Linked DNA regions of Homo sapiens. The protein of the gene in region 1 interacts with the protein of each later gene in a pairwise test. Each region holds a gene or a part of one and is shown in the gene's direction. Other genes may lie near its edges.

Region 1 (7,028 bases):
TAAGAAATAACATGTTTCATTGCAGGATACAAGTTTAATTTCTAACAATTTATGTGTCCCAGTGAAAAGAGCAACCCAAATTTATTTAACTATTTTGAGGTCATAGACAATATTCAAGTATATTTACTTCATTATCATTCATTACATTAATTTAATTAATTGTATTAATATTCATAGTTAATATTAATGATATATTAACAACTACTATGGTAGTAATTATTAGAATAATAGGAAATTATATTTAGAAACTCAGCTAACAAGTAGAGTGAAGGACTATATATTTTTATTACCAACTAGACTACAGTAAAATGACTATTTAATATTATTCTGATCTCAGAAATGAATTTGGGTTGTTCTTTCCTTGTCATATGAAAAACACTCATCCCACTTAAAAGCCAGTCACTACCTAAAAGTACCCCCACATCAGAATGAAGCCGTGCACCCACAGTGTCTGTGGTCTCCTCTGCTCATTTAATAGTAAAGTTTGTGTGTGCATTCCCATTATTGTTTCCTCATAACCACATGGGGTTATACCACACACAAAGAAGCTCTCTTTTTTTTTTTTTAAAGCATAAAAAGGAAACCATTTAAATATTGTAGTTGCCGTGGAGTTCTTTCCAAATCAGGTCATGGAAATCTACCTTAATCTTTTTTATGGTTACGTTGTATTTCACATAAGGACTTACTAAGTTAAGGTTTGATAATCCAATTAACCTTTTTCTTTCATTTTTAAAAATAAATTCCCTAATTGTGTCTGAGGATGGGCACGTTAGAATAAGTTTTCATAGACTCACGGGAAATTTAAATTAACAGCCCACCCAGAAGGAAATACATGTTTACATTCTGACCCCATTTCTCTGGTAACAAGTCTGTTAAAGCAAAATAATCTTTTGGGGATTATTCAAAGATCCAGAAGAGGTGAGGGGTAGAAGTTAAGTTGCATTCTGAGGTATTATAAATTATAGGGACCAGGCATAGTGGCTCATGCTTATAATCCCAGCATTTCTGGAGGCTGAGGTAGGACGGTTGCTTAAAACCAGAAGTTCGAGAGACTCCCTCTCTACAAAATAAAATATTAGGCGGGCATGGTGGCTCATGCCTGTTAGCCAGACTACTCAGGAGGCTAAGGCAGGAGGATCGCTTGAGCCCAGGAGGTCGAGGCTGCAGTGAGCTATGATCGTGCCACTGTACTCCAGCCCAGGGGACAGAATGAGACTCTGTTTTCTTTTCTTTTCTTTTCTTTTCTTTCTTTTTTTTTTTTTTTTTTGAGACGGAGTCTTGCTCTGTCACCCAGGCTGGATTACAATGGTGCGATCTTGGCTCACTGCAACCTCTGCCTCCCGGGTTCAAGCGATTCTCCTGCCTCAGCCTCCCATGTAGCTGCAATTACAGGTGCACACCACCACTCCCGGCCAATTTGTTTTGTATTTTTAGTAGAGACAGGGTTTCACCATTTTGGTCAAGCTGGTCTTGAACTCCTGACCTTGTGATCCACTCACCTCAGCCTCCTAAAGTGCTGGGATTACAGGCGTGAGCCACTGCCCCCGGCCTGTTTTCTATTAAATAAATAAATAAATTTTAAAATATATTATGGGGTTCGAATGAGCTATAGACCTGGGTTTGTTTGTTTGTTTGTTTGTTTGTTTTTGTTTTTTGAGACAGAGTCTTGCTCCTCGCCCAGGCTGGAGTGGAATGGCACAATCTTGGCTCACTGCAACCTCTGCCTCTTGCATTCAAACGATTCTTCTGCCTCAGCCTCCTGAGTAGCTGAGATTACAGGTGCCTGCCACACACCTGGCTAATTTTTGTATTTTGAGTAGAGACGGGGTTTCGCCATGTTGGCCAGGCTGGTTTCAAACTCCTGACCTCGTGATCTGCTCCCCTCAGCCTCCCAAAGTGCTGGGCTTACAAGTGTGAACCACCAAGCCCAGCCTCAGACCTAGTTTTGTTTTGTTTGTTTTGTTTTGTGTTGTTTTGTTTTGTTTTTTTGAGATGGCGTCTCTCTCTGTTGCCCAGGCCAGAGTGCAATGGTGGTTATCTTGGCTCACTGCCACCTCTGCCTCCTAGGCTCAAGGAGTCCTCTTGCCTCAGCCTCTGGAGTAGCTGGGACTACAGGCAAGCACCACCATACCTGGCTGATGTTGGTATTTTTAGTAGACGCAGGGTTTCATCATGTTGGCCAGGCTGGTCTCAAACTCCTGACAAGTGATCCACCTGCTTCAGCCTCCGAAAGTGCTGGGGATTACAGGAGCAAGCCTCTGTGCCTGGCCTATAGACCTGGTTTCGTATCCCAGCTTTATTACTCACTAGCTGTACTCTGCCTGGTTATATTCATCTTTCTAAATTCATTTATTATGGAAAGTGTAGTATGTATTTAGAAAGCTCATGGCTTTATTACTCTTAATAAATCTGTAGGTACCTTGCCAATGGGTGCAGAAACAAACATATGACTTTAGAAATTTAAAGATAGTTTTCTGGGTAATGACCGATATGGGTAGATAAGTGAAGTTCACTAACTTACTGCTTGGGAACAGCTGAAACAACAGTAAGTATAACCACAAGTAGAGCCAGAGGAGAAAGGTCCTGGCAGGGTGGCGGTGACTAGTATTATTTTTTTATATCTTCTGGGATTTTTGAAGATTGAAGGGGATCTTCAAAATAAATTGCAAATAGCAAAGAAGTTGGTGCTTGACTGGAGATGGTTTTCAGATTGAGCAGTAGATTGCTTTATCTTCTGTTTGAATTGATAACTTTGAATTGATAACTTAAGGCAGTGGTCTTGTGATGGCTGGACACAGCTTACAAAATATTATTTTAATGCAGTGTGATTTCAAGATTAGTCAAATGGGAGGCAATAAAGTCTGCAGGAAATGATAACCTTTGAGTGTGGGAGTAGATGTAATTTTGTTAAGCAGCGCTTGCCATGGCACAGAGGTCCCAGGACTCCTGGAATCCCATTTTTGACTACTTCCTTCCTTGCAAGGAGAAAGAAAATGCACGGTTTTAGCTTTGTACGTTTGTTTTTATCTCATGATTTTTTTTTCAATCACAGACCTAGATTAAGGACGTAAAATTGAGGTTAATGGCTACCTCCTTTAGAATTAAAATGAAATCGGAAATTCAGAAGTTTTTGAAAACAAGAAAAGAGAGCTAGAAATACCAAACTTTAGCAAAGCAAGAAAAGCGTACCTGTGGATTTTTCTTAAGTTTAAGAAATAGGAAATAGATAATGACTTTTTTTCAGCTGTTTTTTTTTTTTCCAAATATATTTTTTTAAACTCAGGTGAGTTATGCATATCTGAAAATGAAAGAAGGCTTGTTTCTAAAGAGGCTTGGAGCAAACTGCAGCAGTACTTTCCAAAGGCTCCTGAGTTTCCAAGTTACAAAGAGTGCTGTTCACAGTGCAAGGTACTGAACGCTACTGACATCTGGGGAAATGGCATGCCACCTCCCTGGGTTGACTTCCCAGGGGAATTAACACTGTACTTCTGACGGGGGTGTAGGGAGGAGGCAGGTCATGTGCTGTCAGCAGGAGACAGTTGATTGCTTCATTCTCTTTCAGATTTTAGAAAGAGAAGGGGAAGAAAATGAAGCCTTACATAAGATGATTGCAAACGAGCAAAAGACTTCTCTCCCAAATTTGTTCCAGGATAAAAACAGACCGTGTCTCAGTAACTGGCCAGAGGTATAATGATTCCCACAAAAGAAAGAATGCATCTTTTCTTTTTAAAGCCCTTGCCAAATTCCCAGTGAGCTATTTCAGAACAACCCAGAACTTCTCATATTCTCATTTGTTTAGTTATCTAACCAGGGGATTTACTCCAGCCTGCTATTTTTTGGTAGAGGACTGTGTTTTCATTTTATTTATAAAACTTGAATAAGGACAACCAAAGTATATTATAAGGAATTTGTGTTAAGCAGGCGGTGAATTGACGGATACTGTTTTGTGATTTTTGTGTTCTAGGATACGGATGTCCTCTACATCGTGTCTCAGTTCTTTGTAGAAGAGTGGCGGAAATTTGTTAGGTAGAAACAAAATATGTTTTATTTCCTTTATTGTTACTGATTTGGTTGACTCTGGTATTTTTTAAGATATCGTGGATTCTGTTTGTTGTACCCTTCCTTCATGGTTACTTTCACCAGCATACACTGAAAGCTTTCTTTTCTATTAATTAAATGAATAAGCCTAAGAAACACATTGAATTACTAATATTTTCTTAAATATATCTCTGATTTTGAAATAATTATTTTAAAATCTTCTCTTTCGTCATGCAGTAATTAGGTATATTTCTCCTCCTTGTCTCATTTGAGTAGAAAGCCTACAAGATGCAGCCCTGTGTCATCAGTTGGGAACAGTGCTCTTTTGTGTCCCCACGGGGGCCTCATGTTTACATTTGCTTCCATGACCAAAGAAGATTCTAAACTGTGAGTTCCTTCTCTTCATGTGATTTTTTTTTCTTCTTTTCTCTTTTTGATGATTAATAAAATATGTTTAGGAAATTTCTCATCTGACATAGTCTGTTTTAAGAATTTAGTCCTTTGCTGAATTGTGGGGTTTTTTTTTCCCCTTTTAAAAGAGAAGAAGACTGCTTCTCCAGGAAAGACAAGAGGCTGCCCGAGGCTATTTGTCTTTTTGCTCTTTCCTTGTCCCTCTTGAAGACAACACAGCCACCCTTTCTCTTCCCCCGCTGCTGGTGACCAGTGCTGAGACCTCTTTTCCAGAATCACAGAATCAACATGGTCTTGGTTATAGGTTTTGTTCTGCCATGGCCAGGCTTCAGACAATTAAAGGAGGAGGCTAGCAGGGTGGCAGAGCAAAGCCACTGCACTGGTCATCTGGAATTCTAGGGTCTTAGAACCCAAATTTTATTCCATGCTTCAAGTACTTCCAGAGGTGTTCATCTGTGAATTTCTCCCGATTTTACCAAAAATCGTGATATACGAGAAGGTAGAATGCTTCCAACATTGTCAGAAAATCAGGAAAAGGAAATTGGAACACATAAATAAAAATGCCCTTGGGGTTAAGCTAGAGTTTTATTATTCATATTTCAGTACTTTAACATCATTTAAGGGAGTTCAAAGTTTATATATTCTCTACATTTTCTCCCTCCTCTTTCTCTCCCTCCCTCTCTGCATCCCGCCTTCCCTGTTGCTCTCTCACTCTCGCTGTGCATCTCTCTTCTCTTTCCTCCCTCCCTTTCTTCCTGTCGTTGTTATTGCAAATGTCAGACTTCCAGGAAAATACACCAGTAAGCAAATGTGTGTTACCATTCAGTTTAAAAGTTAAATGGTTCAAATATGATTAAAGGCCCCACAGTGCTTATCCTTCTGTTGCTACTTCTCTTTCTCCCACCCTTCCTCTCACACTAACCACTGTACTGAATTTAGAGTTTATCTGTCTCAGAAAGTATTCTGTAAAAAAAAAAAATGCACGCACATAATGTCTTGCATATTTAAAACTTTTTATATAAATGGCACCATACTGTATTTATACTTCTGCAACTAACTTATTTTACTCAATTATGTTTTTGAGATCTAACCATGTTGATTCATGTAATTTCAGTCCATTTAGTTTCGCTGCTGTGGTAACATTCCTTTGTATGAAAAACTATTCTTTGTTGATGATACGTATCTTTTCTCTCTAATTCCTTTGGATTAAATGTTAGTGTTAATGGTTTTGGTTTAGCAGACTAATGGATTATGTTAATTCTCTTAATTTCCATGTGTCTTAAGGCATGTTGTGTTTTTTTTTTGCACAGTATAGCTCTCATATGGCCCAGTGAGTGGCAAATGATACAAAAGCTCTTTGTTGTGGATCATGTAATTAAAATCACGAGAATTGAAGTGGGAGATGTAAACCCTTCAGAAACACAGTATATTTCTGAGCCCAGTAAGTTTTCATATTGCTTTCGGTTTCTATAGTTAAGAGCTGACATTTTAAGAAGAAAGGGTGTGTCAGTGTTGTCTGCTTAAAGTTAAAGATCATGCGGCGGTCCCAACTCCCTAGGTGGAAACTCTCATTATAATCATCCCATTATTTGTACGTTTATTTATGGACAGTAAATGGATTTCCTTATCATTTGCATGTAATAGAATATAGTGGTTAATAGAAAATATTATTAAGAGTTTGGGCCAGCACACTAGCTCATACCTATAATCCTAATACTTTGAGAGACTAGGGTGGAAGGATTGCTTAAGGCCAGGAGTTTCAGACCAGCCTGAGCAACATAACAAGACCTTCTCTCTACAAAATAATAAAAATGTAGCACATATCTGTAGTCTTGAGCTACTCGCTGAGAGGCTGAGTCAGGAGCATGGCTTGAGCCCAGAAGCTTGAGGCTACAGTGAGCTATGTTCATACCACTGTACCCCAGCCTGGGTGACACAGCAAAACCTTGTCTCAAAAAAAGAAAATGTTACTAAGAGTTTAATGAATATTCACTAGTAACTTTGACATATGTTTTTAGATCTTTGATTCTTTAACAATGATTCCTCAGCCACTTCTGTTTTCCCTTTTTTTTTTTCCCCCAAAGAACTCTGTCCAGAATGCAGAGAAGGCTTATTGTGTCAGCAGCAGAGGGACCTGCGTGAATACACTCAAGCCACCATCTATGTCCATAAAGTTGTGGATAATAAAAAGGTACTGGTCCCTCTTGTGGCAATGACTAGTAATGATCAAGCGTGCTCTTTGGCTTGATTTGCTGTTGTATTTGCACTGAGGGTCTGCCTAGGACTGCATTTTTGTTCCTTCAGAGCTGTTTGGCATCAGAATTGAAATTGGACAATAATTGAAAATGAACAGTTATGTGATTATATGAGAATTTAGTTTGTTATTAATTGATGCATAGATATTTACTGAATGTCAGCTGTGTTCCAGGAATGGTCCAGGTGCTGGGGATACAGTGATAAAGAAGGCAGGTATAATACCTTCTCTCAAAATTATAGGCACCTAGTGAGGAAGATCAGGAATAAAGTATAAATTCATATGATTTCACACAGAAATGATTGTTTTGAAGGAACTTTAGCAG
Region 2 (7,028 bases), on another chromosome or scaffold:
CAACCTTTCTGCTATTTTTGACCTTTCTGCTTTTCTCTCTTCCTCTAACTAAATTATATTTCTCATGCTATATGTATCAACCTGATTATTTCTCTACGAACTTCTTTCATCTGGTCTTTTGAAAAGTTCCCCTCACTGGACTTGGTGGCTCACGCCTGTAATCCCAACACTTTGGGAGGCTGAGGCCAGAGACTTGCTTGAAGCCAGAGAGTTGCTTGAGCCCAAGACTTTGAGACTAGCCTGGGCAACAAAGTAAGACCCCATCTCTACAAAAAAATAAAATAATTAGGCAGGCGTGGTGGCGGCACAGGCATATCCTAGATACTCAGGAAGCTGAGGTAGGAGGATCTGATCCCAGGAGTTGAACTGCAGTGAACAGTAATCATGCCACTGCACTTCTGCCTGGGTGACAGAGTGAGACCCTGTCTCCAAAAACAACAACAACAACAACGCAGAAAGAAAAGTACCCCATTCCATCTCACCATGCCTATCCCCTCTCCCCTTGCTTTTTCAGGTACACTGCAGTGGTCATGCCCGTTCACTACCAGCATGGCACGGGACAGAGCTCCTGTCGGCGCGTGGCCCTCATGATCACGGCCGTCTGGGTACTGGCCTTTGCTGTGTCCTGCCCTCTTCTGTTTGGCTTTAATACCACAGGTAACAGTGATGGCTTCATTTCTAGCATCCATGTGATTCACAGCACAGCTGAATGACTGGCTGTGAGTTGTGCTCAGCCCTGCAATTTCTGACCCCCGGTCAGTGTACTTTGCAATTAAATGAGAATGCCACAGAATGCAAAGCTTTGGCCTTTGTGGGTTATAAATAAAATATAAAGCAAAACCTCATCAATTATTGGCACAGGGGGTAAAGTTCTGCCCCAATTAATGAAAAGTCTGGCTCATCTTTATTTTGAAAGAAATGTCATTGTATTCATTTGCAGAAATGTACCAGTTAAAAAAACCAAGATATATATTAATAATTCAGGCAAGGTTTGCTAATAAAAAGATAACAATTCATAACAGACCTACAATGCAAAATAACACATTGTAAAAGTCTTATAGTAGGATATATACTTCTAACTTTTTACTCAATAAGAATAATTTCCAATTCTTCAGAACTAACCAGTATAGATTCCCAAATTCCTGGAGAGTATATTTTCTATTTTTAATATAAAAATTCTGGGTATGATGGTTGGCACATGGTACATCTCCTGGGTGGATGGATGGATGGACAATATATATGTCTGAAATGCTCGGGATTTTAAGCATGACACCAATACCTCAGATGAATCAGTGCCTTCTGTGTTTGTACCATGTCCATCTTTTAGCCTCACTAATTTTTTTTCTTTTTCTTTTTCTTTTTTTTTTTTTTTTGAGACCAAGTCTCATTCTGTCACCCAGGCTGGAGTCCAATGGCACAATCTAGGCTCACTGCAACTTCTGCCTCCTGGGTTCAAGCAATTCTCCTGCCTCAGACTCCCAAGTAGCTGGGATTACAGGCACCCACCACCACGCCCCACTAATTTTATATTTTACCCTGTTGGCCAGGCTGGTCTCAAACTCCTGACCTCAAGTGATCAGCCCGCCTCGGCCTCCCAAAATGCTGGGATTACAAGTGTGAGCCACCGCGTTCGGCCAGCCTCAGTAATTTAACGTGTCGAATGAAAGGTATTAAACCACATAGTAACATGATGGGTATTGACAATATACACTGCGTGCTAAGGAAAAGCTGCTTGATTAGTGTTCCAGTGGTCATCTGGATTTCTTATTTTGTCCATTTGAATTGATTCATTCAATGCCTATATTCCAGGTTTGTAAATGTCTAGTATATATGTACCAGTCACATAGCCATGTGCTTGTGTGTATGCAGATATTATATGTAACATATTACATATAAATACAGGCAAATTCTAACTTTAAGTAATCTTCCAAGTGTCATTTGCTGGACAATGATTTAGAAATCAAAATATATTTTGGAAGATAGGTATAGGCTCTGGAGTAAGTAAAATCTAAGTCCAAACTCCAAATCAAAGTCCAGACTTACTAGCTGTCTCTCCTTAAACAAGTTACTTAACTTCTCTGAGTTCCTCATTGGTAAATGTGGGATAAAATTACAGTGGAGCATACACTTGAGTGAATTAAAATAAGTAAACTTGATCTACATATTTAGTTAAGACATTTTTAATATTTATTTTTATATATGACCCCCTACAAATGAGCCCAGCAATTTCATCTCTAAAATTATATGTTCCATAGGAACTCTACAATATATGATATATTACTATATGTACCATACAACTTATTACTCTGCAGGGTTATAATAAAACCATGTATATCTTTACATGTGATTCAGATTTTCAAGGCAAATTTGGAGTCTATATAATTTTCACTTTATTTATTGACTTTAGAATCTAAGACTACATATAACTCCACTCCAACTTCTTCAGAGAGATTTTTGCCATTAAATGAGGATTAAATTGGGATAACATATGTAAATATGCCAAGCACGTACCGCCTACTCAAGGCTGGCTTGTTTCTCTGCCACAGTAAAGGGTAACTAGCCAACTTATCAACAAATATTTGCCTGTTCAACCCAGGCTATTCTCAAAATATGGTGATGTTATCTTTGCGTTACTGTTTACCTTTCATTACTTTGTTATTTTAACTGAATGACACTTTATACACACAAACATGCACACATTGCCCAGTACAAAGCAACATCCCTTAACACAGCTACAGAGGCTGACTCTGTGGCACTAAAATATCATTTTTCGTGAATGCTAAATGTGCTTTATGAGTTAGTCTGATAACTAAGTCACCTTCTGTAACCTTGTTTCTATATGAAAATGCATTCTTAGTTGGAAATTCTAGTGTGGGAAACTCACCACTGCTAGACCAAGGCACTTCTTACCCTCTAGCCAAAAGCAAATCCCTGCCAACATCTGCTGGGCTGACTGTGGTTCCCCTGACTCATTCTTGGTGGAGGCGGTCTTATTCACTCTCACAGACACACCACACTGGAAACAGTTGAAACAATCTCAAAAGCTGACATTAGACTGAGTTCTCGGTTAATGTCGACATCCAGAGTGAAGAAGAATGATGAATTTGCAGTGTTGTTGCCCCCAGTGAGATCATTATTGTTCCAGAAACAAAATTCAGGAAAGTTTTTTCCAAAAGGATTTTTAAGTATAGAATTGAGAAGGCAGAAAAGGCCTGTGACTTAGTATGTGCGCTCTCACTTCTCTCTCGTCTCTCACAATCGCTCTGTCTTTTACATTTAAGTTTATTAATAGCACTCTAGCAAGCCTTCCAATTATTCATATATTGTGTTAAAGTGTCAGGTTCCATTGTAAGAGCTCAGTAGATATTAGCTGGTGTTATGGTTGTTATTATTTATTGGAAAAGTTTATACATCAAAATGTAACTATACATCTGCAGTCGTAAGAGTTCTGCTGATGGTTTTAGAGATCAGTCGCCCCTTCCTAGAACACAGTTAGGGGATTTAGTAAGTGAAGCTCAGGCCCAGCTGTCCTCCTCTGCCTCAAGCTGACCTTCACTGTACAGCTTCATTATCTTGATAGATGTGGGTTCCTGCAGCAATTCTCTCATCTATAAGGAAGTTCCCAACTTCATTTGAAAGCCCAATATAAAGGACTCTTCTCAGTCATTTTTTCTACACCTTCTGTGGAAAATCAAGGGGGAGAGGGCAGGATCCTGCCAATAACACCTGATATTGGAAGCAGCTGGACTTTCACTAATAAGTGCAACACAAAAAAAGAACTTTCTGGCAGAGCTCTTCTTTTAATGCCATGGGCTGCCACACGAAATTGTGAATTATTAGAGAACATAAGATACAGAAAAGTTGAACTTCAGTCTCTTCCAACTTGGAGTTGCTCCTGTTCTCAGATGAAAGGTCAATATGAGGCAGGGTTTTGGGTGAGAGAGTTCCGAGGCAGGGGCCTGGCTGGCCAGGGTTGCCTTAACTCCCAGCAGAGGCCCAGCAGTCTAGGCAAATATCACATCATCAACAGACCCTGATACAGCAGAGCATGGTGTGCTGGTGCCAAAGGAAACTCTGAAGATGCCTGAATGAGCAGCCCAACCCTTTCATTGCATAGATAAGAAAAATAACTAGTATTTAAATTCCTGCTAAATCAGAAAGCTATTGTGTTATTTTTAAAAATCTAGAATGAATAAGCAAAGAGTGAATAAGCTGATGATAAGAGTTTAAGAAATCTTCAAGGGAGGAGAAACTTAAAGTTAAGAAAACTCTATCAGCTGGCTTGATTTTCCTTTGAAAGAAGGAAATGGAGGAGTGCTATTTATTTGATTTCATCAATAGAACATCTCACCTAGTTTTCAGAGCACTGGAGCTAGGTTGGGGGAGGGGGAGCTTAGTTGCACAAAAAGTTAAGAGAATAGTAGAAGCACAAAATTAAAAGAATAACAGGCCCATCCTAAAATCAGATTCATTGGCACCGCATGTCTTTGGAATCAAGCTGGGGTCAAATCCATCAATGAATTTGAAGTTCATGAATCTTTCAAGTAAACCTGCTCTGAGCCAAGCTGTCCACATCATGGTGGGTCTCAGTTTCCCAAGACAGCCTGCAAAAGCCTCATAGATGCCTTTGTCTTTTTCACCCAGCACAGTGCTTTAAACATAGTACGTACTCCACAAAATTTGTAGAATGAGTAAATAGATGACTCTTCATCATCATCCTTTCTTCCTGAAATGTTGAGATTAGTTGGGATAAGCATCTCTAATCTCAGAGGAGGAGTAACCTCCCCTCCCCCGGCACAGGCCTTCTCCATTATCCTCTGGTCAGTGAGTGCTCATGTGTTTATATAAAATGCTCATTTGTACATTTTGCTCATTTATTTATTATTTATGCACTTGCTCAATAACTATTGTGCTAACAAAACAACACTCTTGCAGTTAAATCATCAAAACAAGGCACCTCATCTCCTGGGGAAGTGTCAGCTTCTGGGGGGCATTACAGCTTTCCTTACCTCTTTGGTACACAGCAGAGAAGGTTTCAGAACTGCTGCTGTGTGGTGCATCACTCTGCCCTGCCAACAGGACACACACCCAGGGCCAGGCCTGCTGGGGGCTGGGGCAGGCCCTACTCATTGGCCACCCACCTCCAGTGTCACTCTGCCTGCAATGGGGACATTCTGGAAGAGGCTGCAATGCTTGATCTAAGAAAGGGAAGCTGTTTGCTTAGATAGGGGAGGAAGGAAGAGATGGCAATGCAGGTTCTGTGATTATATGTGAGAGCCTTCGTTGACTAGGGACCCTGAAATAGCTATATGCCCTCTCAACTCTCTCTTTCAATATTTTTAATGGAGAAATAAATGCTTGCACATAAAACATTCATAAGGTGCCCATGAGATACATACATACTTATATGTAGGTCTCCCTTCTACCCCAGATTACTACATTCTCCCATCTCCCTCCCTAGAAACAAACATTAATATTCTTGCAAGATAATGCTTGCAACAGTGTGCATGTCCATACACAAATATGTTTATGTATGTGTATGTGTATTCATTATTACACAAATAGAAGCATACCATACCCCTATCTGACCCTGACTTTTTAAAAGAAGTAGCTCATATATAAAATTTAGAGGTCAGCCTCCCAGAACCCAGAGTGGGTAGGAAAAGGTAGAAAGTTAGGTGGAGGGACCAACAGGGAATATCCGGGACACCAAGGATGACAACAAGATGGGCAGTGCCACCCCACTGGCCTCTTCTCACACGTGAGACATGTGAAACGCCTCCTTATCACAGGCAGGTTTTAAAACCATAGTCAGATGCTGACAACAGAAAAGCTGACTTCAGAGAAGGAGCAGATCACCACCAACGTGGCTCCCTAGAGATTCTGAAAGACCACGCACTGCCACCCTATCCCTCTCCCCAACTCCATCACCCCCAAATACCAGCAGATGCCAATTTGGTGAACTACACAGAGCCTATGAGCCATTTTCTTTTCTTTTCTTTTTTTTTTTTTTTTTTTTTTTTTGAGAGAGAGTCTCGCTCTATCGCCCAGGCTGGAGTGCAATGGCGCGATCTCAGCTCACTGCAACTCTGCCTCCTGGGTTCAAGCGGTTCTCCTGCCTCAGCCTCCTGAGTAGCTGGGATTACAGGTGTGTGCTACCACACCGGCTAACTTTTGTATTTTTAGTAGAGACGTGGTTTCACCATGTTGGTCAGGCTCGTCTCGAACTCCTGACCTTGTGATCCACCTGCCTCGGCCTCTCAAAGTGCTGGGATTACAGGCGTGAGCCACCATGCCTGGCCCCTATAAGCCATTTTCTAAAGGATGATGACATAGGCTTTGGTGAAACAACATGAAATTTACCTGAATTTTACCTCCTCTTCAGAGAACCAGAGAATTTAGGAGTAGCTTGTAAAGATTCTAGTGGCAAAGATGTCAGTAAAATGCATCACTGGTCACTGAGCACACTCTTTTCGTTTTAGTTCTTAGCTGTTATTTCCTTCCTTCTCCCACAAATATTGCTCCCTATAAGTCTGTCTCCAAATTCCCATTTCAGATGTTACCTTCCCTTTCAGTTCAAAAGGCTCAGGGGAGAGAAATAATAAATAATAAATAAATAAATATTAAGAATAGCTACCATTTATTCTCATTAATTCTCACAACTACTATACAATATTTCTAGGCTTTTTCTTTTAACAGGTAATAAAACTGAAGCTTTGCATATTTAAGAAATGTGTCAGCTGGGTGCAGTGGTTCACGCCTGTAATCCCAGCACTTTGGGAGGCCAAGGAGGGTGGATCACCTGAGGTGGGGAGTTTGAGACCAGCCTGACCATCATGGAGAAACCCCTTCTCTACTAAAAATACAAAAAAATTAGCTGGGCATGGCGGCCCATGCCTGTAATCCCAGCTACTTGGGAGGCTGAGGCAGGAGAATCGCTTGAACCTGGGAGATGGAGGTTGCGGTGAGCCGAGATCGAGCCATTGGATTCCAGCCTGGGCAACAAGGGCAAAATTCCGTCTCAAAAA

Evidence for each region.
Region 2: the proteins of USP48 (region 1) and DRD3 interact in a two-hybrid assay, tested with the Homo sapiens proteins (one study listed by BioGRID).

What each region holds. Positions count from the first base shown.
Region 1 is NC_000001.11:21,703,124-21,710,151, reverse strand, and holds part of USP48 (ubiquitin carboxyl-terminal hydrolase 48), read left to right. Parts: intron 1-3,283; coding exon 3,284-3,408; intron 3,409-3,562; coding exon 3,563-3,685; intron 3,686-3,964; coding exon 3,965-4,026; intron 4,027-4,314; coding exon 4,315-4,425; intron 4,426-5,759; coding exon 5,760-5,890; intron 5,891-6,533; coding exon 6,534-6,640; intron 6,641-7,028.
Region 2 is NC_000003.12:114,141,044-114,148,071, reverse strand, and holds part of DRD3 (D(3) dopamine receptor), read left to right. Parts: intron 1-514; coding exon 515-657; intron 658-7,028. UniProt on the Homo sapiens protein: Dopamine receptor whose activity is mediated by G proteins which inhibit adenylyl cyclase. Promotes cell proliferation.